Linked DNA regions of Homo sapiens: regions 1 and 2 are each linked to region 3. Evidence: fine-mapped expression QTL. A gene starts in region 3. Each other region holds a variant in brackets. All regions are shown on one strand. Distances are from middle to middle.

Region 1 (8,182 bases), 110 kb after region 3:
TTGCAGTGAGCCGAAATCATGCCACTGTACTCCAGCCTGGCCAACAAGAGCAAGACTCCATCTCAAAATAATAATAATAATAAATCAAGAACCACGTAATGGCACGGAAGATGGAGATGCTGTCATTGCTGACGTTTTTCTTGGTAATAACTCAGGAATGCCAGTGTTCTTGGCATGCGTTATCAGACCTCACCTGATAATAACTAGGACCGAGGGCCTGAATGTCAGTTGGCATCAAAAAAGTGAACAACTAAAAGGAAGAATAAAAAGATAGAAACGACCATCTAGAAAGGTTTACTCCTGGCAAAGGTGCCCAGAGACATGGGGTAAAAAAAGTATGTCGGGACTCAAACCCTGACAGGATCTCGAACTTTGGATCTATATGGATCGTTTATTCCAATAAACAAATGCATGAATTCTTCTTCTGAATACACATTTACCCCCAAAGTGATTGTTAATTGGATTAAAGTCTACAGCCTTCCTTAAATAAAGGCTTAATCACATTCTCTACCAGAGAATCATGCTCACTTTCTCCCATGGGCTTGAGGCTCTTATAGGGGCAGAAAGGCTTATTTAAACAAAGAGAGTGGCAAATGGTATGCTAAGCAATCTCCTTATCTTCTCTCTTACCTCTCTAATATGTCCTCCATGTTGCTTTGAGAAAGATCTTGGTTGGTTGGGCGCAGTGGCTCACGCCTCTAATCCCAGCACTTTGGGAGGCCGAGGTGGGAGGATCACCTGAAGTCAGGAGTTCGAGACCGGCCTGACCAATGTGGTAAAACCCTGTCTCTACTAAAAAAAAATACAAAAATTAGCCAGGCGTGGTGGCATGCACCTGTAGTCCCAGCTACTTGGGAGACTGAGGCAGGAGAACCTTGAACCTAAGAGGCAGAGGTTGCAGAGAGCCAAGATCGAGCCACTGCACTCCAGCCTGGGCGACAGAGCGAGACTCCATCTCAAAAAAAAAAAAAAAAAAGAGAAAGAACTTGATAAACCCAGGTGTGGCTGTGACTCTTCCCTTCTGTCTGAGCCAGTTCTTTACCCCTTTGTGACTGGGATAAGAACCATAGCAGCTATAGACACAAAACCGTAGTAGAATGAAGGAGATTTTTCCCAAAGCACTTGGCAGCTTGCTTGAAGGACGTGTCCCTTCAGCCTGGCTTATTTGGAAGATGCTTAGGACTTCTGACTCACCACTTTTATTGTTTATTTCTTCTTATGATGACATCAAAGTAGAAAGTATTCTTGCAAGGTGCGGTGGCTCATATTTGGAAATCCCAGCACTTTGGGAGGCCAAGGTGGGTGAATTGCTTGAGCCCAGGTGGTTGAGGCTGCAGTGAGCCATCATGGTGCTGCTGCCCTCCAGACTGGGTGACAGAGTGAGTGAGACCTTATCTTAAAAAAAAAAAAAAAGAAAAGAGGCCGGGCGCGGTGGCTTACGCCTATAATCCCAGCATTTTGGGAGGCTGAGGCGGGTGGATCACTTGAGGTCAGGAGTTCGAGACCAGCCTGACCAACATGGCGAAACCCTGTCTCTACTAAAAATACAAAAATTAGCCAGGCGTGGTAGCACACACCTGTCATCCCAGCTACTCGGGCGGCTGAGGTAGGAGAATCGCTTGAACCCGGGAGGCGGAGGTTGCAGTGAGCCGAGATCACGCCACTGCACTCCAGCCTGGGCAACAGAGCAAGACTCCATCTCAAAAAAAAAAAAAAAGAAAAAAAGAAAAAGAAAAAAAGCATTATTGTTGTCATCTTCTCCCCCACATCCAACTCTAACCCTGCCTTCCGTGGTGACCCCACAGCTCTGTGAGGAGGACTGCTTCTCCAATGCCAGTGTCAAAGTCAGCTACCAGCTCCAGACCCCTGAGGGACAGACGGACCATCCCCAGCCCATCCTGGACCGCTACACTGAGCCCTTTGCCATCTTCCAGGTGACTCTACCCACAGCCAGTACCCAGCCCTCTTAAGAGCCTATCCCACAGAAACCACCTGCTCCCCTAACTTCCAAGAATGGTGGAGTTGGGAGGCAATGTCTTCAGACGGCATTTGGGCCCCTCACCGTACTCATGGTGAAACTGAGTCCCTGAGATGGTGTTAATGTGTCCCCGTGAGTGAGGACTCATGGGTAACGCAGGTCTCCATCTGCCCCTGGGGCTTGTTCCTTTATGTCTTTATGTTCACAAAAGCACTTGCTACATCTTTCATGAGGCACATGCATACATTGCATCCTGGGGACCTCACTTGGCAAGCGGCTCTGATGACGCTGTGATGGGGGTTCCTTGTGGGAGCTAGACTGGAGCTGTCGTGTCTTGCACTGCAGAGAGGATGCCCTTTGGCACACCTGCCTGTTCATGCCCTGCCAGGGCCTTCAGGCTGAATGGCCCCACCAAACCTGTATCCTAGCCTCTCCTCCTGGTGCCCATCAGTGCAGCTTAGACAGGCGGGTAGTGTCATAAGAAACTTTTGTCAGCCGGGCGCCCTGGCTGATGCCTGTAATCCCAACACTTTGGGAGGTTGAGGCAGGTGGATCACCTGAGGTCAGGAGTTCGATACCAGCCTGGCCAAGATGGTGAAACCCTGTCTCTACTAAAAATACAAAAATTGGCCGGGTGTGGTGGCATGGGCCTGTAGTCCCAGCTACTAGGGAGGCTGAGGCAGGAGAATCATTTGAATCCTTTGCCCAGGAGGCAGAGGTTCCAGTGAGCCAAGGCCGTGCCATTGCACTCCAGCCTAGGCAACAGAGCGAGACTCCATCTCAAAAAAATAAAAAATAAAATAAATTTTAAAAAATACAAAGATTAGCCCAGTGTGGTGGTGCATGCCTGTAGTTCCAGCTACTCAGGAGGCTGAGGCAGGAGAATTGCTTGACCCCGGGAGACAGTGGTTGCAGTGAACCGAGATCGTGCCACTGCACTCCAGCCTGAGTGACAGAGAAAGACTCCGTCTCAAAAAAAAAAAAAAAACCACAAACCTTCAATATATATTTCCTAAAAACAAAGGCATTGTCTTAACATAGTACAATAATCAAAATCAGGAAATTCACATTGATAAAATACTATTATCTAATTTACAAACTTTATTCAAATTTTGCCAGTTGTCCTATTAATGTCCTTTATAGCAAAAGAAAAAAAAGGTTCTGGTCCAGGATCATTCATAGCGTTCTACAGTTATTTATCTTTAGTCTCCTTTAATCTGGAAGGGTTTCTCACTCAGTCTTCCCTTGTCTTTTAATGACATTAACATTTTTGAAGGGTACAGGCCAGTCCTTTTGTAGAATGTTCCTCAATTTGTCTGATATTTCTTCATAATTAGATTCAGGTTATACATTTTTGTTTTGTTTTTGAGACAGAGTTTCGCCCTTGTTGCCCAGGCTGGAGTGCAATGGCGTGATCTCGGCTCACTGCAACCTCTGCCTCCCAAGTTCAAGCAATTCTCCTGCCTCAGCCTCCCGAGTAGCTGGGATTACAGGCATGTATCACCATGCTCGGCTAATTTTTGTACTTTTAGTAGAGACGGGGTTTCACTATGTTGGCCAGGCTGGTCTTGAACACCTGACCTCAGGTGATCTACCCTCCTCGGCCTCCCAAAGTGCTGGGATTACAGACGTGAGCCACCATGCCTGGCCAGGTTATGCATTTTTGTCAGGAATATCACAGAAGTAAAGTGTGTCCTTCTCAGTACACCATCTCAGGAGGCACCTAATGTGGACTTGTCCATTCCTAGTGCTGTTTGCCTGTGTCATTAATAAGCACGTCTCATTTTATGGTGAGATGCCTTGCGATTGTATCCTGCTTAACATCTCTTTATGTGTCTTTCCTTAACCAGTGATGACTATTATGCTATGGCAAAGAGATTTTTAAAAAGTTATTCCCCGTATAAAATGGGTGAGGAAAAAACCACGTGGTATTAGGCACATCGGTGTTACCAGAGAGTGCGTTCTGGCTGGGAGTTTAGATGGCTTAACCCCATTCTCTTTCACTGGGGCTGGGTGGAAGAGATCAGGCTATGTGGCTATATTAAAAATACAACAAAAGGCCGGGCGCGGGGGCTCACGCCTGTAATCCCAGCACTTTGGGAGGCCGAGGCTGGCGGATCATGAGGTCAGGAGATCGAGACCATCCTGGCTAACACAGTGAAACCCCGTCTCTACTAAAAATACAAAAAAAAAAAAAAAATTAGCTGGGCGTGGTGGCGGGCAGCTGTAGTCCCAGCTACTCGGGAGTCTGAGGCAGGAGAATGGCGTGAACCCGGGAGGCGGAGCTTGCAGTGAGCGGAGATTGCGCCACTGCACTCCAGCCTGGGCGACAGAGCGAGACTCCGTCTCAAAAAAAAAAAAAAAAAAAAAAAAATACAACAAAAAACCCTGCATGAAACTGTTGACCCACTTAGAGAGAGCGCCACGCTTTGACTTCTGCAAATGGCATCCCCCTTCCGCAGGAAGTAGAAAGTTCCCTTTCAAGCCCTGGGCTGTCATTCCCCCTCTAGGCC[G/A]TGGGAACAGACCTGCAGACAGCTGCCGAGGTGGCCACCGGGAGAGAAGTGCGAAGTGCAGAGGCTCTCCAGCCGAGGAGCTGGCTGCCTTCCTTCATAATACAAAAACAGACCCAGCTACTTTAGAACACTGGAATTTTTAAAAACACGAACTGGAGCTTTTCAACCTCCATGGGGCCTTTTGAAATGTGGCTTTCAGAATTAGTCGATTATGTGTAGGCAAGGGAAATAGTTAGCTTACAGAGACGACTAGCCAGGCCGGGCGCGGTGGCTCACACCTGTAATCCCAACACTTTGGAAGGCCAAGGTGGGTGGATGACCTGAGGTCAGGAGTTTGAGACCAACCTGGTCAACATGGCGAAACCCTTTCTCTAATAAAAATACAAAGTTAGCCAGGCGTGGTGGCACATGCCTGTAATCCCAGCTACTTGGGAGGCTGAGGCAGGAGAATCGCTTGAATCCGGGAGGCAGAGATGGCAGTGAGCCGAGATCGCGCCATTGCACTCCAGCCTGGATGACAGAGCGAGACTCCATCTGAAAACAAACAAACAAACAACCGAAAAAACAGATGACTAGCCATGAGGAAGGAACCTCCAAGGCCTGGACCTTGACGATATTTGGCTAGGCATCCCCCACTCCTGCCCGGGCTGTTCTGCCTATATCCGAAAGGACTAAGGAAGCTTCTCTTCGCGTAGGTGTCTGCTCCCTGAATGCTCAAAGTCGTGAGCTGTGTGTTGCTGCTGAATTCGCATGATGTAAATGTCATGGGCACCCCTAACATTCCGTGAAGGTCACCCCAGTTTTTACCTTGGTCAAAGGACTGGGTCACAGTGTGCCCATGTTATAGGACAGATCCAGGAATGTCACCCAGGAATGTCACAGTCCCTGCTCTTCGGGGACAATCCCAGCCTGCACCCCTCACCTCCCTGTAACTGCACTTCTCAGGGTGAGCAGGAGGCACAGCCCAAAACTTCCTATAAGGAGAAGAGCCGGAGGCAGGGCTGCTGGGGAAGGCGGAGCCTGGGCTGATCGGGACTCTCTGTCTGGTTACAGCTGCCCTATGAGAAGGCCTGCAAGAATAAGCTGTTTTGTGTCGCAGAATTACAGTTGGCCACCACCGTCTCTCAGTGAGTTGGACATAGCCGTCAGTTTCCTCGATTAACCTTCTCCCGAACGCTTGCCTGGGCAATTCCTTCATTAGGACACCCTGCACATCCCCTTCCCCTCTCCCCGTGGCCCACAAATGGCTTCTGCACTTATTATCTCAATATGTCCTCAGCTACCCCAGAAGGGAGGCAAGACAGAGATCTGTCTTCCCACTTTCTAGATTAGGAAGCAGACTCAGTCGCCGAGGGCCCTGCATAGGCCATTTGGTGGACTTGAACCTGGGTCTCTTGACATCCCGGACAATGCTATATTCAGAACCCAGCGTTCTTCACAGCCAGGCTGACCTCTACCTCAGTTAGAGGTAACCTCTTTCCCGGCCCACCTCTTGGCCAAATTAACTAATCAATCAAATATTTCTGGACCATCTACTTTGTGCCAAGCACTCTAGGTGCTGGGGATACTTCTGTGAACAACACAGACAAAAATCCCTGCCCTCCTGGTGCTCTTAGGGGGAGAAGATGGTAAGTAGGTAAATTCCATGTTGATGAGATGAACGTTGAAGACACAGGGAAGGTGGGAAGGAGTGTTGGGTGGCAGCTGATGCTGAAGTTTTCAATGGGGTGGTCACGGAGGGTGACACTTTGGCACACACTGGAGGAGGTAGGGGAACGAGCTATGTGGTTGGGTGTCTAAGGGAAGAGCAGCTGCAGGTACCCTGGGTTGGAAGCCTGCCTGGTGGGTGGGGGGCAGGGTGAGGAGCTAGTGGCTGCAGTGGAGTGGGGCGGGGTGTAATGAGGGAAGGGGAGGAAGGGGGAAGAGGCCATGGGGCTTCTTAAGCCCTCAGAAGGGCTTTTGCTGTGAGCTGGGAAGTCAGAGGAGTGACACACTCATGCAGCTTAGCAGGATCCTTCTTGCTGCTTAGCTGAGAAGAGAAGCGGCACTTGCTCCCTTTGTAACCACTCAGGTGAGAGGCGGTGTGGGCTGGGCCATGACGGGAGTAACAGTTTAAAGTGACAGCTCATACGTAGCACGTGCTGACAGAATGGAGGCGGAGGGAGGAAAGAGGGCCACAGCCCCAGCATGCGGCACTGCACTGTCCAACACACCAGCCACGCTTAGCTGTTTACATGTACATGAGTTAAAATTAATCACAATGAAACATTTTGTTCCTCAGTCACATTAGCCACACTTCAAAGACTCAGTGGCCGCCTGTGGCTGGTGGTGTTGGGCAGCGCAGATACCGCCTGTCTCCATCGCTGCAGACGTTCTATTGGACCACACTGAATTCCAGAATGACAGTGTTGCCAAGCACATGAGTGTGGGTTTAGACATGTAGTGGTCTTAGAATGCCCCCCAGGCCGGGCGCGGTGGCTCATGCCTGTAATCCCAGCACTTTGGGAGGCAGAGGTAGGCGGATCATGAGGTCAGGAGTTTGAGACAAGCCTGGTCAACATGGTAAAACCCCGTCTCTACTAAAAATACAAAAATTAGCTGGGCATGGTGGTGGGCGCCTGTAATCACAGCTACTGGGCAGGCTGAGGCAGGAGAATCGCTCAAACTCGGGAGGCGGAGGGTGCAGTGAGCCGAGATCGCTCCACTGCACTCCAGCCTGGGTGACAGAGCAAGACTCCAAAAACGGGGAGGGGGGGAGGGTAACAAAACAAAACAAACAAGCGTCCTTGGCGACTAGTGTTGTGTATGTATTGTGATTCTGTTGGCCAGCTGGCTGGAGTTGCCGTATATGGGGAAGAACGCAGTTCCCCAAGTCCTGGTCAGCCCTTTCATAGACATTTGCAGGACCAATTGAAGACTTTCAAATGCTCTGGAATCCAGGCTAACAAGCAGGCACAGCTGTTTCCAGCAGGGAATTAATTACAGCCAAGAACCAACCTCCCAGCCAGCTACTGGGGGTAGTAGAGATACAGCACGCATGGCTTGCCCTACATCGCCCCCTAGTGTACATAGCAAGCAAACGCTTCTCTTTCAAAAACGCTAGTGAGCCTGGTCGTCGGTGTCCAGCTGTCTCAGTGGTTTTTGACCTGAGGACATAGATCCCCAAAAGAATCTAATGAAGACTACAGACCCCTCTCCTTAGAAGATCACATGTGCATACATAAATTTTGGCATTCCGGGCCCTCTGAGACGGTCCCTAGGCCTCAGATTAGGCAACGCTGTTAATATTCTGATGACACTGAGGTCTCACGCCTGAGCTCTAAGATGTGTGTCCAGCTGACATGTCAGCATCTCTGCTTTGTTATCCTATATGCACCTCTTGTCATGTCCCCGATTGAACGCATCTTCTTCCACCCTTGGGTCTTCCTCCCATGTTACCTCCCTCAGTCAATGGCACCACTCAGCCACCGGCACCACTCAGCCACCGGCACCACTCAGCCACCTGAGCTAGAAACTCAGAACTTGCCCTTAACTCCTCTGTCCCCCCTCCCCTGCCTCTTTTTCGTTTCATTTGCTTTACTGTCTCTGACTTCTTTCCTTCTCCACTACTGTTGTCTTTTTTCTTCTTCTTCTTCTTTTGAGACAGGGTCTCACTCTGTCACCCAGGCAGGAGTGCAGTGGCGCGATCTTG
Region 2 (8,182 bases), 24 kb after region 3:
TTTTCTTTCTTTTCCCTCCCCTTCCCTTCCATCTTTTCCCTTCCCCCTTCCCCTTTCCCCCTACCCTTCCCCCTTCCCTTTTCCTTTCCGTTCCGTTCCATTCTGTTCCATTCCTTTTGTTTTTTCTTGACAGAGTCTCGCTCTGTCGCCCAGGCTGGAGTGCAGTGTGGCATCATCTCGGCTCACTGCAAGCTCTGCCTCCCGGGTTCACGCCATTCTGCCTCAGCCTCCCGAGTAGCTGGGACCACAGGCGCCCGCCACCACGCCCGGCTAATTTTTTGTATTTTTAGTAGAGACGGGGTTTCACCGTGTTAGCCAGGATGGTCTCGATCTCCTGACCTCGTGATCCGCCTGGCTCGGCCTCCCAAAGTGCTTTCTCTCTCTCTCTTTTTCTTTCTTTCATCTCTCTCTCTCCTTCCTTCCTTCCTTCCTTCCTTCCTTCTCTTTCTGTCTCTCTTTCTCTTTCTTTCTTTCTTTTTTATTTATTTTTAACTTTTCATTTCTTTTGAGACAAAGTCTCACCCTGTTACCCAGGCTGGAGTGCAGTGGTGTGACCTTGGCATACTGCAGCCTCAATATCCTAGGCTCAATCCATTCTCCCACCTCGGCCTCCCAAGTAGCTGGGACTACCGGCTCATGCCACCATGACTTTTGTATTTTTTTGTAGAGACAGGGTGTCACTATGTTGCCCAGGATGATCTCACTCCAAGCGAGTCTCCTGCCTTGGCCTCCCAAAGTACTGGGGTTATAGGTGTGAGTCACCATGCCTGGTCTATATTTCTCTTCATTAGTTGGTTTGTATATTTACTGATGATAATCTGTTGCTAGATGAGGCTGTAGTGATGAATGCGATGCAGAATCTGCTCTCAAGAAGCTTACCATTTCCATGCTGTGTAATGTCTTATTTTACATTTTATTTTAGGTAATGTAGTTTGGCTGGATGAAATGACAGCCACACGAGCACTTATCAATATGAGCTCCCTGCCTGCACAGGATAAGATCAGAAGCAGGGATGCCAGTGAGGACAAGTCAGCTGAGAAAAGGAAAAAAGGTAACAACACAAAGGAGGGAACTGGGGTCTGAAAGTCCTCTTCTTTACACAGTCCTGTTTCTGAGCAGAGCTCTATATAGCATCTCATCACCAAGTGTTTCTGAACTAATCTATGATGCTTGAGATCATCAGGAAATAGGAGAAAATACTGGACTTTTAAAATTATATGAGATAGTTCATCTTGTATCTCATTATATGAAATATTTTATCTTGTTTCATCTTGTCCTTCACATTCCATTTTAGACAAGCAGGAAGACAGTTCAGATGATGATGAAGCTGAAGAAGGAGAGGTTGAAGATGAGAACTCAAGTGATGTAGAGGTTAGTAATAGGGGAAAGATAGATGTAAAGTTATTGTAAAAAATTGCTCACTGTCTTTTTAACTTAAGCCTTAAAGACTTAGTTACGTTTTTTCTCTAGCTTTCACCATTAGACCTTCTGAGGGTGCACCAGGCTCTTGTCCTTTAAGTTAGTGTGGATATAGCGATTCACCTTGAAATCTTAGAATAGTGCTTATGCTTCTACAAAAAAAGAAAATAGTTTTATTGAGAAATACTTTGAAGTGTTATCTAATTAGTAAAATGAAGAAACAGCAAGTAATGGCATACTTCCTAATGGATTATGTACTGTTGTTAAAAATATTAACATGCATTCATTTAAAAAATATTTACTGAGTACCTATTATATACCATATTCTAAGTGCTAGGGATATAGCTTCAAGCAAAACAAAGTCCTGGCCCTCTCGGAGCCTGCATTCTAGTGGGGAGTGCAGAGGATACACTGATGCACAGATATCTCATACTGTGTCAGGTGGCAATGAGTGTTGTGAAAAGAGTAGGGGATAGAGAATGATGGAGACTGTTCTTTTAGACAAGGTGGGCAGGGGAAATCTCTGAGTTAGAAATTCTACAGCGGAACTAGTGCTATAATGCTTGTAAGTATTAAAGGTAGAATGCTTTTCTTAATGGTAGCTTTACTACTGAAGAAATATCAAAAGGACTTTAATTTTTATATTAAAAATACTCTTCTTTCTTAAGTTGGATACGTTGTCTCAGGTAGAAGAGGAGTCTTTGTTAAGAAACGATCTTCGTCCAGCTAACAAACTTGCTAAAGGAAATAGGTTATTCATGAGATTTGCTACAAAAGGTAAATGTAATATTTGGTATTGTTTTATATTTTCAATCAAAATGATTTATTATGGAGTGACATCCTTCTTTTTTGAATAGAAGTTAGATCAAGTAATCTCAAAGTTCCCTTCAAACTATAATATTCTGCGCTTATGAAATAATTGCTTGCCACCTGAGTTGGAATTTCTGACTTTAAAAGTGAATATTAACTATTTGTATATTTCTGTGACTTCTGGCTAAAGTTATTTTCTGTTGAAACTGGTTTGCCTCATATATTTTCAGCCAGTTACCATCTGAATTATGAAAACTTTCAAATGAAACTTTATTTATTACAGCAACGTCCTCCTGAACATTGCCAGTGTACCATTCGGTTCTAATTCCCTTCTCATAAGATTGTTTACACATGGTGACTTTTGGTGGGCATTTAAAAATGTGTGTGTATGTGTATATATGTATGTGTATGTATGTGTATATATGTATATGTATGTATGTATCGCGTGTATGTGTGTATGTATGCATGTGTATGTATGTATATGTATGTATGTGTATGTGTATATATGTATGTGTGTGTATGTATATGTGTGTGTATGTGTATGTGTGTGTGTATGTGTGTGTGTATGTATGTATGTATGTATATGTATTATACACATATACACATATTGGTTTTTTTAATCATTTGAGAGTTAGTTGAAGATAAAAACCCATCACCCCTAAATGTATTCCAAAGAATAAGAACATTGTTTTATACATAGCACACTTAACAAAATCAAGAAATTTAACATTAATACAGTACTGTTACCTAATCCGTAGTCGATTTTCAAATTTTGTCAGTTGTTCCAATAATGTCCTTTATATATTCCCCGCCCAGCCCCAGGTCTAGGATCCATCCAGGACTGAGTGTGTAAGTATGTAATGTTTCCTTAGTCCCCCTTAAGCTGAAACTACTTCTATCCTCCCATGTTTTCCAAGAATATAGGTTTACTATTTTATACAATGTCCCTCAGTTTGGGTTTGTCTGATGATTCCTCCTGATTGAATTTGGGTTGTGCATTTGAGACAGGCGTGCCACAGAAGCGATGTCATGTCATTTCCAGAGCATCATGTCAGGAGGCCCTGGATACTTACTCGTCCCAGTCCTAGGGACGTTCACTTTATTCACTTGGTTAAGGTAATCATCACTAGGTTTTTCCACTGTAAAGTTGCTATTCTTCCATTTGTAATTTAAAAATTGGTGGGCTGGCTGGTTACAGTGGCTCGTGCCTGTAATTGCAACACTTTGGGATGCTGAGGCAGAAGGATCACTTGAGCCCAGGAGTTCGAGACCAGGCTAGGCAACATAGCAAGACCTCATCCCTATTTTAAAAAATAAAAAAATGATTAAAATAAAAAATTGGTGGGCAGATACTTTGAGATCACGTAAATAGCCTCTTGCTCATCAGAGCTTCATGCCTTTCTGACTATGTCATTTCTTTACCAGTAGACAGGTGCTCTAAGGAAGAGCCTTCTGTTTTTACCTGTTTGTTTATTTACATCAGTTTAGAATCATGGATTCTTTATTCAGTGGGTTATCATCCATGGATATCAGTATTTAATTTTATTTATTTTTTTGTTTGTTTTGAGACGGAGTGTTGCTCTGTCACCAGGCTGGAGTGCAGTGGCGCGATCTTGGCTCACTGCAACCGCTGCCTCCCTGCAACCTCTGCCTCCCTGCAACCTCTGCCTCCTGGGTTCAAGCAATTCTCCTGTCTCAGCTTCCCTAGTAGCTGGGACTACAGGTGCATGCCACCATGCCCAGCTAATTTTTGTATTTTTAGTAGAGATGGGGTTCACCATGTTGGCCAGGATGGTCTCGATCTCTTGACCTTGTGATCCGCCCGCCTCAGCCTCCCAAAGTACTGGGATTACAGGCGTGAGCCATCGCGCCCAGCCTAATATCAGTATTTTAATTTACAAATTGTCTTGGATTTGGCCAGTAGAGCCCCTTCAAGCTGTTTTGACATACTCCATGATTCTTTAAGCACTTTCTTTCTTTATGGCACAA[C/T]AAAACATCTTGCTTTTCCAGACTCATTTTGCATCTTACCTGCTCCACATCTGGAATCAGCCATTTCTCCAAGGAGCTGGTGGGCATGGTTTGAGGGGTTCGGGGGTTGGGGGCTATACATACTGGTTTGTGTTGTCACGTTTACCTACAGCCCTGGATATATTTACAGTGGTGTTTGTTCTTTACAGTCAGAGTGTCCAAGAACTGTGGAAGGTCTTTGTATTACTACTTTTGACAAAAATTTATGATGACTGACCACCTTTCTTTCCTGTTAACTGACATTTCAACTTGACAAATGTGATCTTTACCACATTTACTCATTTGAGTGGCTGAGTACATTCTACATGTATAGTATTATGCTGTTTTCTTTAAGCCATTTTGAGGAGCACAATAAACTGGAAAAATGATTTACCAAATATATGGAATTATATGTAGTCTGTTTCCTTAATCCTGATGCTGTGTTGTTGGCATGTGATCCTTCAGAAGTGAATATCATCTTTCATGGGGTGGCAAAAATGCCACTATTTTGAGAAAGTCTTTTTGATTCCTGGGTACCTGTAATGACCTAAAGCTCTTTTATGCCTTTTGGAACCTTGTATCTTGTATTGTTTATTTTTGTTTTCTCCATTAAGTCATCTGGCTCCAAACAGCAGTTTTAACCTCATTCGTCTCTGTATTTTGCTTTATCCCCTCTACACTGCATTGCTGTAGTGGGCACTCAGAGTGTGAATGTTGGTAGTGGATTTTTACTTTTTGTTGGCAAATTGCGCTGATCTGATTCCAGCTATGGAAAACATTAAAAAAAAAATTCAACATTGTCTTTACACTCACAGGAAATCCTAGGTAACTATTGTCATTAATTTTTAGATGACAAAAAGGAACTTGGAGCAGCCAGAAGAAGTCAGTATTACATGAAATATGGGAATCCAAATTATGGAGGCATGAAAGGAATTCTTAGCAATTCATGGTGAGTCCAAAACCTTCAAATGCAATAGTATTTGAGTTTTTCTTAATCCTTCAGTTGGTATTCCGTGGTGAAATGTCTAAACCCTGTGTAAACTGGAAGGAAAACAAGAGGGAAGAATTCAAGATTCTTAGATGTGGTAAATGATGGGGAATGCTGAATTGTAGTTACATTTAAAATATCTGTGTTAGTACCTAACATTGTGTCAACGTGTAGTTGAAATGAATTAGCGAGCCCAGACATGGTGGCTCACGCCTGTAATCCCAGCACTTTGGGAGGCCGAGGCCAGCAGATCACCTGAGGTCAGGAGTTCGAGACCAGCCTGGCCAACATGGTGAAACCCCGTCTCTACTAAAAATACAAAAATTAGCCATGCATGGTGGTGGGCGCCTGTAATCCCACCTACTCGGGAGGCTGAGGCAGGAGAATTGCTTGAACCCAAGAGGCAAAGGTTGCAGTGAGCTGAGATGGTGCCATTGCACTTCAGCCTGGGAGAGAGATTGAGACTCCATCACAAAAAAAAAAGAAAAGAGAAAGAAATAGTGGATTTCAAGGTCCTTCCTATCAGTTTTTGATTGTGTGCTTATTTTGGCATTCTTGCAGGAAGCGAAGATATCATTCCCGTCGTATTCAGCGGGACGTGATCAAGAAGAGAGCCCTGATTGGGGATGACGTTGGCTTGACGTCGTATAAACATCGACATTCTGGTAGTTGCCTGCTCAGCTCTTGGGTAGACACATGTTTGGCTCCTGAAATCATATTTTTATTCTTAATGCAATCTTTTAAGGTTCCAAACTTTATCATCCTCTCTTCCTTGCCCTCACCCTCTGCCAACATATAGGAAAGTAAGTCAAGTCACAATTAATTTTAAGTTGCCCAAAGAGGTCAAATGATTTTATAAAAGCTGTTCTATCAAAAAAGGCAAAATATGACATAGGAAAAATTAAAACAAAACTTTCCTTAGGATCCTAATTTTTCTACTATTAATATCAACAGCTGCATGAAAACAATTTTTTTTTTTTTTTTAAGACGGAGTCTCGCTCTGTCTCTCAGGCTGGAGTGCAATTGCTTGATCTCGGCTCACTGCAACTCTGCCTCCTGGATTCAAGCAATTCTCCTGCCTTAGCCTCCCGAGTAGCTGGGACTACAGGCATGCGCCACCATGCCCAGCTAACTTTTGTATTTTTAGTAGAGATGGGGTTTCACCATGTTGGCCAGGCTGGTCTCGAACTCCTGACCTTGTGTTCCACCCACTTTGGCCTCCCAGAGTGCTGGGATTACAGGTGTGAGCTACCGCGCCTAGCCAAAAACAATTTTTGAAATTATTTTATCAGATGAACTGATTGTATTGTTCTTTTTCTGTATTAAAAATAGGCTGCTGTGTTGAGTGCTTTGTGCTTGTTGGTTTGTGCATGTGAATGCCTCAGAAGAGTGGGATATCATGACTTGGGTTTCTTTCTCCTTTTTTTGGTGCTTATTGTAAAAGAACCATTTTATTTATGTTTTATAAAGAATTGTTCTTGTTTTGAGCCTAATCTATGGAATCTTCTACATGCCTAATAGAACTAGTCAAGTCAGCATACAAAATAACATATACACACATTTATCATTGTAATGGGGACAGAAAGGGATGAAGTCTAGATGTTTTATTTAATGTGTATATACAAAATTGTATATTTGAGATCTACATGTTAATAATACACATAGGATGGGAACAGTGGCTCACACCTATAATCCCAGCACTTTGGGAGGCCAAGGCAGGAGGATCACTTGAAACCAGGAGTTTGAGACCAGCCTGGGCAACATAGTGAGACCTTGTCGTTACAAAAAATTAAAAAATTAGCCAGACCAGGCATGATGGCACATACCTGTGGTCCCAGCTACTTGGGAGGCTGAGATTGCCTGAGCCTGGAAGGTCAAGGCTGCAGTGAGCCAAGATTGTGCCACTGTATTCCAACCTGGGCGACAGAGCAAGACTTTGTCTCAAAATAATAATAATAATACACATACTTTACTGTTACACAGTTACACTTTTCCAATTTGAGTTACTTTAAAATATTTTCATCATATACTTTTTATATCCATATTAAGGAAATTAAAAAGCAAATTGCCCCTATTTCTAGTACCCTGTATGATGACTGAGTTCATCTTACATTTTTCCCATTTGTTTTCATAATAAATAGTATAACTCTTGGGAACATGTACTTTATATTCTACTTCTTTCGTTTATTGTATTTTTCCATTTTCATTATTCATGGTGCTTATGTTCTATAAAGTCACTGTGAACACTGAAGTAGCAAATACTGAATCGTACATAGCCTCTGGCCACATCATTTTTGTCAGTTGATCAATATGTAACCTTGTTTTACATATGTTTCTCTCTTTTTTTTTTTTTTGAGACAGAGTCTTGCTCTGTTGCCCAGGCTGGAGTGCAGTGGCGCGATCTCGGCTCACTGCAACCTCCGCCTCCCGGGTTCACGCCATTCTCCTACCTCAGCCTCCCGAGTAGCTGGGACTACAAGCGCACACCACCATGCCCGGCTAATTTTTGTTGTATTTTTTAGTAGAGACAGGGTATTAGCATGTTAGCCAGGATGGTCTCGATTTCCTGACCTCGTGATCTGCCCACCTCGGCCTCCCAAAGTGCTGGGATTACAGGCGTGAGCCACCGCGCTGGGCCCATATGTTTCTCTTTAAGACACCTTATTTAAGACACATTGTTGATTCGTTAACATTGAGTTCACAGCCAGTAGCCCTATAACTCATGCCTGAATGCCTTACCTGATATGGTATTTTTCCACAAGGCACATCACAGCCCCCTTGCATCTAGGAACACTAGGCAGCACTTCGGCACGACACTCAGGGCCATTTTAAGCAGTGAAATCACTAGCAGCAGGCACAGAAGTGTGAAAAATGTGCCACTCGGTGGACTGAAACAGACGCTTGTTTACAGCATGAGATGAAACAGGAAGGTGGAGTGTTGCTTTGTTTGACCTCCAC
Region 3 (8,182 bases):
AGGTTGCAGTGAGCTGAGATCCAGCCTGGGCAACAGAGAGAGACTCCACCTCAAAACAAACAAACAAAAACAAGAATTTAGCTAGGCAGTGGATGGGGCACATAGATACAGTGCCCCCACCAGGGTCAGCTGCCTCATGACCTCTTCTTCAACCACGGAAGCTTTTCCTGAATGACTGATGGGCGTGCGCATGTTGCAAGGACACTCATGAACCGAGGAGTGTGAGGCGTGCAGGTCGCGGGCACCCAGCTTCAGACTGCACTAAAGAACATCCCTGCTTCAATCAGCAGGGCATCAGCTCAGGCAAGTGCACCAGGTTACCAGCCCTCAGGGAGCATCTGATTTCTCCTGAGGAGCTCACATTACCTTTCCACGGCTTTTCCCTGTGCCACTCCAGGGGAAGTAGGATTCCATTATTTTTATTCCCCTCCTTGCTGGGTAAGAGAGGAAGGAATAAGCAGAGGGAGAGGGCTGGGTGTGGTGGTTCACGGCTATAATCCCAGCACTTTGGGAGGCCAAGGTGGGAAGACTTCTTGAGCCCAGGAGTTCAAGACCAGCCTGGGCAACACGGTGAAACCCTGTCTCTACTAAAAATACAAAAATTAGCCGGCCGTGGTGGCACATGCCTGTAATCCCAGCTACTTGGGAGGCTGAGGCAGGAGAATCGCTTGAGTCCGGAAGGCGGAGCTTGCAGTGAGCTGAGATTGTGCCATTGCACTCCAGTCTAGGTGACAGAGTGAGACTCTGTCTCGATAAATAAATAAATAAATAAATAAAGGAGAGGGAGTGACCAATTTCAATGAAAGAAATCACAGAAAAGGAACCCTTTAGAAGAGCCTGTTAATATCCTCCCTGCCCTCTAGCCTACTTCTCCTGAGAGTTGTGTACACTGGCTCAAATCTCCCCACTAATGTGCCTTCCCCTTCATGGACTCTGCTCTCCTCAAAGTCACCAATGGCCAGCAAACCTCTAGACCCAAAACAAGTTCCATCGTGAACTTATGGCAGAACATGACACTTGATCACTCCCTTCTTAAAACTCTCTCTCCAGTCTGTCCCAATGTCCCATTCCCCTGATTTTCTCTATTAATTAAAAATTTTTGCCGGGCGCAGTGGCTCACGCCTGTAATCCCAGCACTTTGGGATGCTGAGGCAGGTGAATCACAAGGTCAGGAGTTCAAGACCAACCTGGCCAAGATGGTGAAACCCCGTCTCTACTAAAAATACAGAAAGTCGCCAGGCATAGTGGCACGTGCCTGTAATCCCAGCTACTCGGGAGGCTGAGGCAGAGAACTGCTTAAAACCTGGGAGGGGGAGGTTGCAGTGAGCCAAGCTCGTGCCACTGCACTCCAGCCTTGGCAACAGAGTGAGACTCCCATCTAAAAAAAATATATATCCAGACTTTGGAAACAGAAAAAGGAAAATGCCCTGTTGGTACTGTGCCAGGTGTTATCTGCCTGGGGAACCATCTGATTCTCTACAGATGTATAGCTTTGTCTGACTTCTTATGCACTATTGATTAGGGTATTTTACAACTGAGAGTAGAGGTTTATAGAAAATTCATAACAGGTGGCTGGGTGCAGTGGCTCACGCCTGTAATCCCAGCACTTTGGGAGGCTGAAGCAGGTGGATCACAAGGTCAGGAGATCGAGACCAACCTGGCTAACACGGTGAAACCCCGTCTCTACTAAAAAAAATACAAAAAATTAGCTGGGCATGGTGGCAGGCGCCTGTAGTCCCAGTTACTCAGGAGGCTGAGGCAGGAGAATGGCGTGAACCCAGGAGGCGGAGGTTGCAGTGAGCCGAGATCGTGCCACTGCACTCCAGCCTGGGTGACAGAGCGAGACTCCATCTCAAAAAAAGAAAAAAAAAAAAGAAAAAAGAAAATTTGGCCGGGCGTGGTGGCTCACGCCTGTAATCCCAGCACTTTGGGAGGCCGAGGCGGGCAGATCACGAGGTCAGGAGATCGAGACCATCCTGGCTAACACGGTGAAACCCCGTCTCTACTAAAAATACAAAAAAGTAGCCGGGCGTGGTGGTGGGCACCTGTAGTCCCAGCTACTCGGGAGGCTGAGGCAGGAGAATGGCGTGAACCCGGGAGGCAGAGCTTGCAGTGAGCCGAGATCACACCACTGCACCCCAGCCTGGGTGACAGAGCGAGACTCCATCTCAAAAAAAGAAAAAAAAGAAAATTTATAACAAGTAAATAATTCTTGTCCAGTAGTAATGCAAATGTTTTCTGTCTGGTGGTAAAGGGAGTCCTGGAGGTTATCGTTTCTTGCCTTACAGGACATTAACTTGCCTTGTCAAATTCATCTCAGCATTCCTTTGACTGACCAACCACATATTCATTCAAGTTCCCCTTCAAACTATTCTTCATATTTCTACTGGTTTCCTCATTTTCTAATGACTGGGTAACAGCTTTGACATGTGTTCATTTTACATCTGTTTGAGAGTCATGTTTTTCAACTTTTTGAAAATCAGCCCTTACCACCTTCCTAAATTCTCTGTGTCTCCAACTCAGCAGGCTGCATCGCGAACAGGAAAGGGGATGGGAGATGGTGACTAAGGTGACCACAAAGAGCAAGGCACAGAGGGCTTTCCTGACACGCGCCTAGGAGCCTTGGTGTTTGCCTGATGTCCCGGCTTGTCCTGGACTCCTCATGTACCTGCCGGCTGGTGTGCCAGGGTGCTGGGGCTCTTCTGGATGGCACTGAACTGCAACACTGAATCCTCACCGAATTGCGTCCTCAAGCAACAAGGCATCCTCCCCAGCAGGGTGAGGGGCCTGCCCAGCCTTCTCTACTGGCCTCCTGGTGTCCATAGCTGAGGAGGGATTACTTCCTCCTCTCCCATCCCCTAACCCCACAGGCCTAGTAATGGTGGGGGCTGTGACTCTTACCTATAGCTGGCCACCCCAACTACACATTTTGTTTGAAATTAAACACACACACACACACACACCCGTACATATTCTATGTATGCATTCAACCCATTTTTTTTTTTTTTTTTTGGAGACGGAGTCTCGCTCTGTCGCCCAGGCTGGAGTGCAGTGGTATGATCTCGGCTCACTGCAACCTCCACCTCCCGGGTTCAAGTGATTCTCCTGCCTCAGCCTCCCAAGTAGTGCATGCCACCATGCCCGGCTAATTTTTTTTTTTTAGTAGAGACACGGTTTCACCATGTTAGCCAGGATGATCTCGATCTCCTGACCTCATGATCTGCCCGCCTTGGCCTCCCAAAGTGTTGGGATTACAGGCATGAGCCACCGTGCCCGGCCTCAACCCAATTTTTAAAAGTACTTTGTGTCCCATTCATCAAATAAAACTAGTCCTCTAAAGAGCTCTGTCTTGTGTTTATCCTGTGGTTTAGCCCAAATTTAAGAAAAACTGTGATGTACTGCACCCCTTCTGTTGGACCCTGTATCTACATATAAATTATCACATTTAACCCTCACAACCTCCTTTGTAGGTAGGTAATGGTCCATTTTACTGATGAAGGAACTGAGACTCCAAAGTGCTAAGCAGCTTGCCTAAGGTCACACATGGTGGATGGGGCCCGGCCAGCCAGCTCGAAACCCAGGTGTGTCTGATGCTGACCATGCTCTTCCTTGGTTTATCATTATTTGCTCCTCCATGGTCAGAGCTGGTAGGGCCTCAGGGCCTCAGAGACTGTAGGGTCTCACCTATGCCCTCCTCAGATGGGAAAACAGACCCAAAAACCTGTCCAAGGTTACCCAGGGAGGAAGATGCAAAATCAGGACTCAGGCCGGGCGCGGTGGCTCATGCCTGTAATCCCAAGACTTTGGGAGGCCGAGGCGGGTGGATCGCTTGAGGTTAGGAATTCGAGACCAGCTTAGTCAACATGGTGAAACCCTGTCTCTACAAAAAAAAAAAAAAAAAAGAAAGAAAGAAAGAAAGAGGAGAGGGAGGAAGGAAGGAAAAGAGAAAGAAAGAAAAGAAGAAAGAAAGGAAGGAAGAAAGGAATAAAGAAAGAAAGAAAGAAAGAAAAAGAAAATCAGGACTCAGAACAGCAGCTGATCAGTGACACCCTCGGGACGCGTAGACAACCCCTCTCCCCCACCAGGCTCTCGTTAGAAATATCCGCCGGAAACTATGCTCACAGGTCTACAGTGGATGGCACCCTCAGGAGTCAGGAAATCGGCGTCCAAGTTCTGGCCTTTGGGCAGGTCTCTCCCTCTTGGAGTCTCAATTTTTGTGTATGTAACATGGGCCAATTTTGGGGAGACTTTTAAGAGACAAAGACTGGCAAGGCAAGTAACTTTATAAACCTACAGATTGTCCAGAGGTGATATATCAAGGCTCATTGTAAACTCTGGAAGACTTAGATCCAGCTTTTATCCCTTAAATGGCGTCACCTTGGGTCAATTTCTATGCCTCAGTTTCCTCATATATGAAATGGGGGTCAAAATAGGATCTACTTCATAGAGTTGTTCTAAGGGTTCGAGCGCTTGGAAGTGTCTGGCCCATAGTGATCACTCAGGAAAGTTGGCTTTTAGTACAGCTTTAGCCTCAAGGCGTAGCTACATTGTAACCCTTGACTACCCCGGTCTCCTCCAAGCTCCGTAGTTCCCGCAGGCCCCGCCCCCGTCCCCGCTCAGTCCCGCCTTCTCCTCCCCAGGTCCCGCCCGCGCAGCCGGCCCGGTTTTCTCCCGCCACCAGGGGGCGGCGGCGCTAAGGGCGGCCTTCTGGGCCGAAGCCGGCGACGCTCTAGGTAGCTGCGGCGGCTCCTCTGTGGCCAGTGGCAGCGGCGCTCTAGCCGGCGGCCGTGAGGGGCGGGCTCTCAGTGGTGCGGCCGGCAGGCAGCGATGGCGGCCGTACGGGGCCTGCGGGTGTCGGTGAAGGCGGAGGCCCCGGCGGGGCCGGCCCTGGGGCTCCCGTCCCCTGAGGCGGAGTCCGGTGTTGACCGTGGCGAGCCGGAGCCCATGGAGGTGGAGGAGGGCGAGCTGGAAATCGTGCCTGTGCGGCGCTCGCTCAAGGAACTGATCCCGGTACGGGCGGGGGTCGGGGGGTAAGGAAGAGGTCGCGGGGCTAGTGTCTAGCGCCGGAGGGGGCCGGAAGGGGCGGTGGCCGGAGCCCCAGCCGGGGAAGTCAAGGGAGCGGGAGAGGAGGGAGCCAGCGTCCTGGGAACGGGAACGCCGGGCTGGAGGAGGGACGCGGAGCGGGAGAAAGGACGCCGGGGCGCCGGAAATGGGTGTTGAGGGGGCTGGGGGGTGGTGGCGGAGAGCTGGGAGGGAGTTGAGGACCCCCCTCCGCTGCCCCCTCTGAGCCGCGCTGTGCAAGGAGGTGAGTGAGGAGGGGCTGGAAGGATGAGATAAAGGGGGAGCCCTGGGCGGGAACAGAACCAGGGGCAGCCCAGAAGGAGCTGTTGGGTGGCGCCAGCAACCAGGTCTCCTTGTGGGTCTTGCCCCGGAGGAATTTGTATCTGGGAAACATGGCACTCGCTCTTTGTCTTGAGAGGGCTGCACTTGTCAGCAGCAGAAACTCACTGTTTCTGTCGTGACTTCGGGGTCATCTTGCCCCCCCCGCAGCTCCAGTGACACCTACACCGTGGCCCCAGCATCTGACTCTTAATGAAAGCAAACTAGCAGACGACCAATAGACATCCTTGGTCCCTCCTTTACCGCGCTGGGGATGGTGAGAGGTGTTTTGCTTGTGACTTGGTGGCTGTATATCCAGTTCTCAGAGCTGGTTTCAGGCCTGGATGACTCCTCTTAATTTCTCACCTAACATGAATTACTTTTGACCACATGTCAACATATTTAGACTGAAGTTATGGAGAAAGGTTAAAGTATGATCGCTAGAGATGGCAAACGTTATAATTATGATTAACAACAGCTAATATAGTAGCATTTACCATTCACTATATTGTGTCACTTAAATATACTGGCCGTGCACGCCTTTAGTGCCAGCTATTCAGGAGTCTAAGTTCCAGACCAGCCTCAGCAATATAGCAAGACCCCTTTGAGGTCCCCCCTTTCCCCTCTCCCCATCTCAAAAACAAAACCAAAATAAATAAATATTACTGCAGTTGTGAAGCAGGTGTTATCATCCCTTTAGTCATTCAGTTCAACATGGTTTTTGTTTTGTTTTGTTTTGAGACGGAGTTCGCTCTTGTTGCCCAGGCTGGAACGCAATGGCGCGATCTCGGCTCACCGCAACTTCCGCCTCCCGGGTTCAAGCCATTCTCCTGCCTCAGCCTCCTGAGTAGCCAAGTACAATGGCCTGATCTTGGCTCACCGCAACCTCCGCCTCCTGGGTTCAAGCTACTCTTCTGCCTCAGCCTCCCAAGTAGTTGAGATTACAGGGATGTGCCACCGTGCCCGGCTAATTTTGTATTTTTAGTAGAGACGGGGTTTCTCCATGTTGGCCAGGCTGGTCTCGAACACCTGACCTCAGGTGATCCGCCCGCCTCTGCCTCCCAAAGTGCTGGGATTACAGGCCTGAGCCATTGCGTCCGGCCAACATGTATTTATTGCATCCCCCGCTATGTACCAAGGCACAGCCCTAGGTGCTTGATCAAGCTCAACCTCCCTCCTGGAGTTTATGTTCCATATAAACTCTAAATGACAAAAAGCCAATCTTGTGAAGATTGAAAAGGAGTTCCCCCAGCAGGGCCAGTAACAAGCACAGAGGCTCTGGGATGGGTCCAGGATTGTTGGAAACTTCTGTAGTACTAATGGAAGGGCAGTAAAAGAGGTCAGGAAGGCAGGTAGATACCACAGAGGAAACTGAGACCCAGAGAGGTCAAGAAAACTATACAGTGTCCTGTAATTAGTGACTGTCAGAGCTGAGGCTTCAGTCCTCGCTTGGTTTCCAAATCCCATCCCCTTTGCATTGCACTGTGCTGTATTTGCCTCAGGAGTTCTAGGTGAGGCTGGACCTTCTGCGTTGAGGTGGAGGGTTGTGCTCCACCTGGTGGCTGGGCATGAGGAATTCGTTCAGACTGGGTTGGGGAGCTAAGTGACTGTGCCTTATCTTTTGACATTTTCCACAAAAGCCTTTAGATTTTCTTTACATGGATACTTGGAGTTGATGGAATCACTTCAGTTTTTGGACAGGCTCTGATCTTCTTATTGGAGTGGTTGATTGATACCATGGAATCACTAGGATGGGGCTTCTTAATAAAAGGTTGTCAGGGGTGGGGAAGGGTTTTGAAAAGAGTGGCTATTCAAAAAGAACCAGACTTGCCAGGTGTGGTGGCTCATGCCTGTATCCCAGCACTTTGGGAGGCTGAGACAGACGGATCACCGAGGTCAGGAGTTTGAGACCAGTATGCCAACATGGTGAAACCTCGTCTCTACTAAAAATAAAAAAATTAGCTGGCGGTGGTGGCACATGCCTGTAATCCCAGCTACTCAGGAGGCTGAGACAGGAGAATCGCTTGAACCCAGGAGGTAGAGGTTGCAGTGAGCCGAGTTTGTGCCACTGCACTCCCGCCTAGGCGATAAGAGTGAGACTCCATCTCAAAAAACAAACAGAAAAACAGAAAGAACCAGACTGGTTGTGATGACTCACACATGTGATCCTAACACTTTGGGAGACTGAGGCAGGAGGACTGCTTTAGCCCAGGAGTTGGTGACCAGCCTGGGCAACATAGGGAGACCCTGTCTCTACAAAATAAAAAAAAAATTAGCTGGGCATGGTGGCATATGCCTGAGGGCCCAGCTGAGGGGGAGGATGGCGTGAGCCTGGGGAGTCGAGGCTGCGGTGAGCTGTGATCATTCTACTGCACTCCGGCCTGGGCAACAGAGCAAGACACTGTCACCAACAAAAAAAAAAAAAAAAGGAAAAAAGAACCTGCAGATGTCAGGCCGACTTTTATTATAGGTTTTTCCTCAATTGCTGTCTGAATTTCTCACCCTTCCCCTTTGTGTTAGGACACGAGCAGAAGATATGAAAACAAGGCTGGCAGCTTCATCACTGGAATTGATGTCACCTCCAAGGTAAGACAGGCTATGATTTATTTATTCAGCTTGATAAGCAAGTGAACTTAATGAATTTGATCCCTAGGACATAACAGTAAATATTTCCTCTTTTATTTTGTTGCTGGATTTAAATTTTTTTTCTAAAAAAAATTGTGTTATTGGCCAGGCACGCTGGCTCATGCCTGTAATCCTAGCATTTTGAGAGGCCAAGCAAGTGGATCGTTTAAGCCCAGGA

The links. PIP is the estimated chance that this variant, and not a neighbour inherited with it, causes the effect.
Region 1: its variant is fine-mapped to the expression of NCBP3 in whole blood (TOPMed, PIP above 0.99).
Region 2: its variant is fine-mapped to the expression of NCBP3 in whole blood (TOPMed, PIP above 0.99). The same link has a PIP of 0.9 or more in blood mononuclear cells, monocytes after LPS, monocytes after Pam3CSK4 and tibial nerve.

Annotation. Positions count from the first base shown.
Region 1 is chr17:3,737,241-3,745,422 of GRCh38, reverse strand. ITGAE (integrin subunit alpha E) reads left to right here. Exons shown (of 31, transcript NM_002208.5): 19 at 1,806-1,934; 20 at 5,545-5,618. Among named protein-coding and RNA genes, the nearest start is that of HASPIN, 17 kb to the right of the region's middle. RefSeq lists an enhancer at 7,334-7,628. The variant G/A (reference allele first, on the strand shown) is at 4,492.
Region 2 is chr17:3,818,956-3,827,137 of GRCh38, reverse strand. NCBP3 (nuclear cap binding subunit 3) reads left to right here. Exons shown (of 13, transcript NM_001114118.3): 5 at 923-1,051; 6 at 1,295-1,371; 7 at 2,088-2,196; 8 at 5,086-5,185; 9 at 5,786-5,889. Among named protein-coding and RNA genes, the nearest start is that of ITGAE, 22 kb to the right of the region's middle. The variant C/T (reference allele first, on the strand shown) is at 4,219.
Region 3 is chr17:3,842,869-3,851,050 of GRCh38, reverse strand. It overlaps NCBP3 (nuclear cap binding subunit 3), which reads left to right and starts at 4,805. Exons shown (of 13, transcript NM_001114118.3): 1 at 4,805-5,010; 2 at 7,900-7,965. The coding sequence starts at 4,828. RefSeq lists silencers at 4,517-4,636, 4,817-5,106.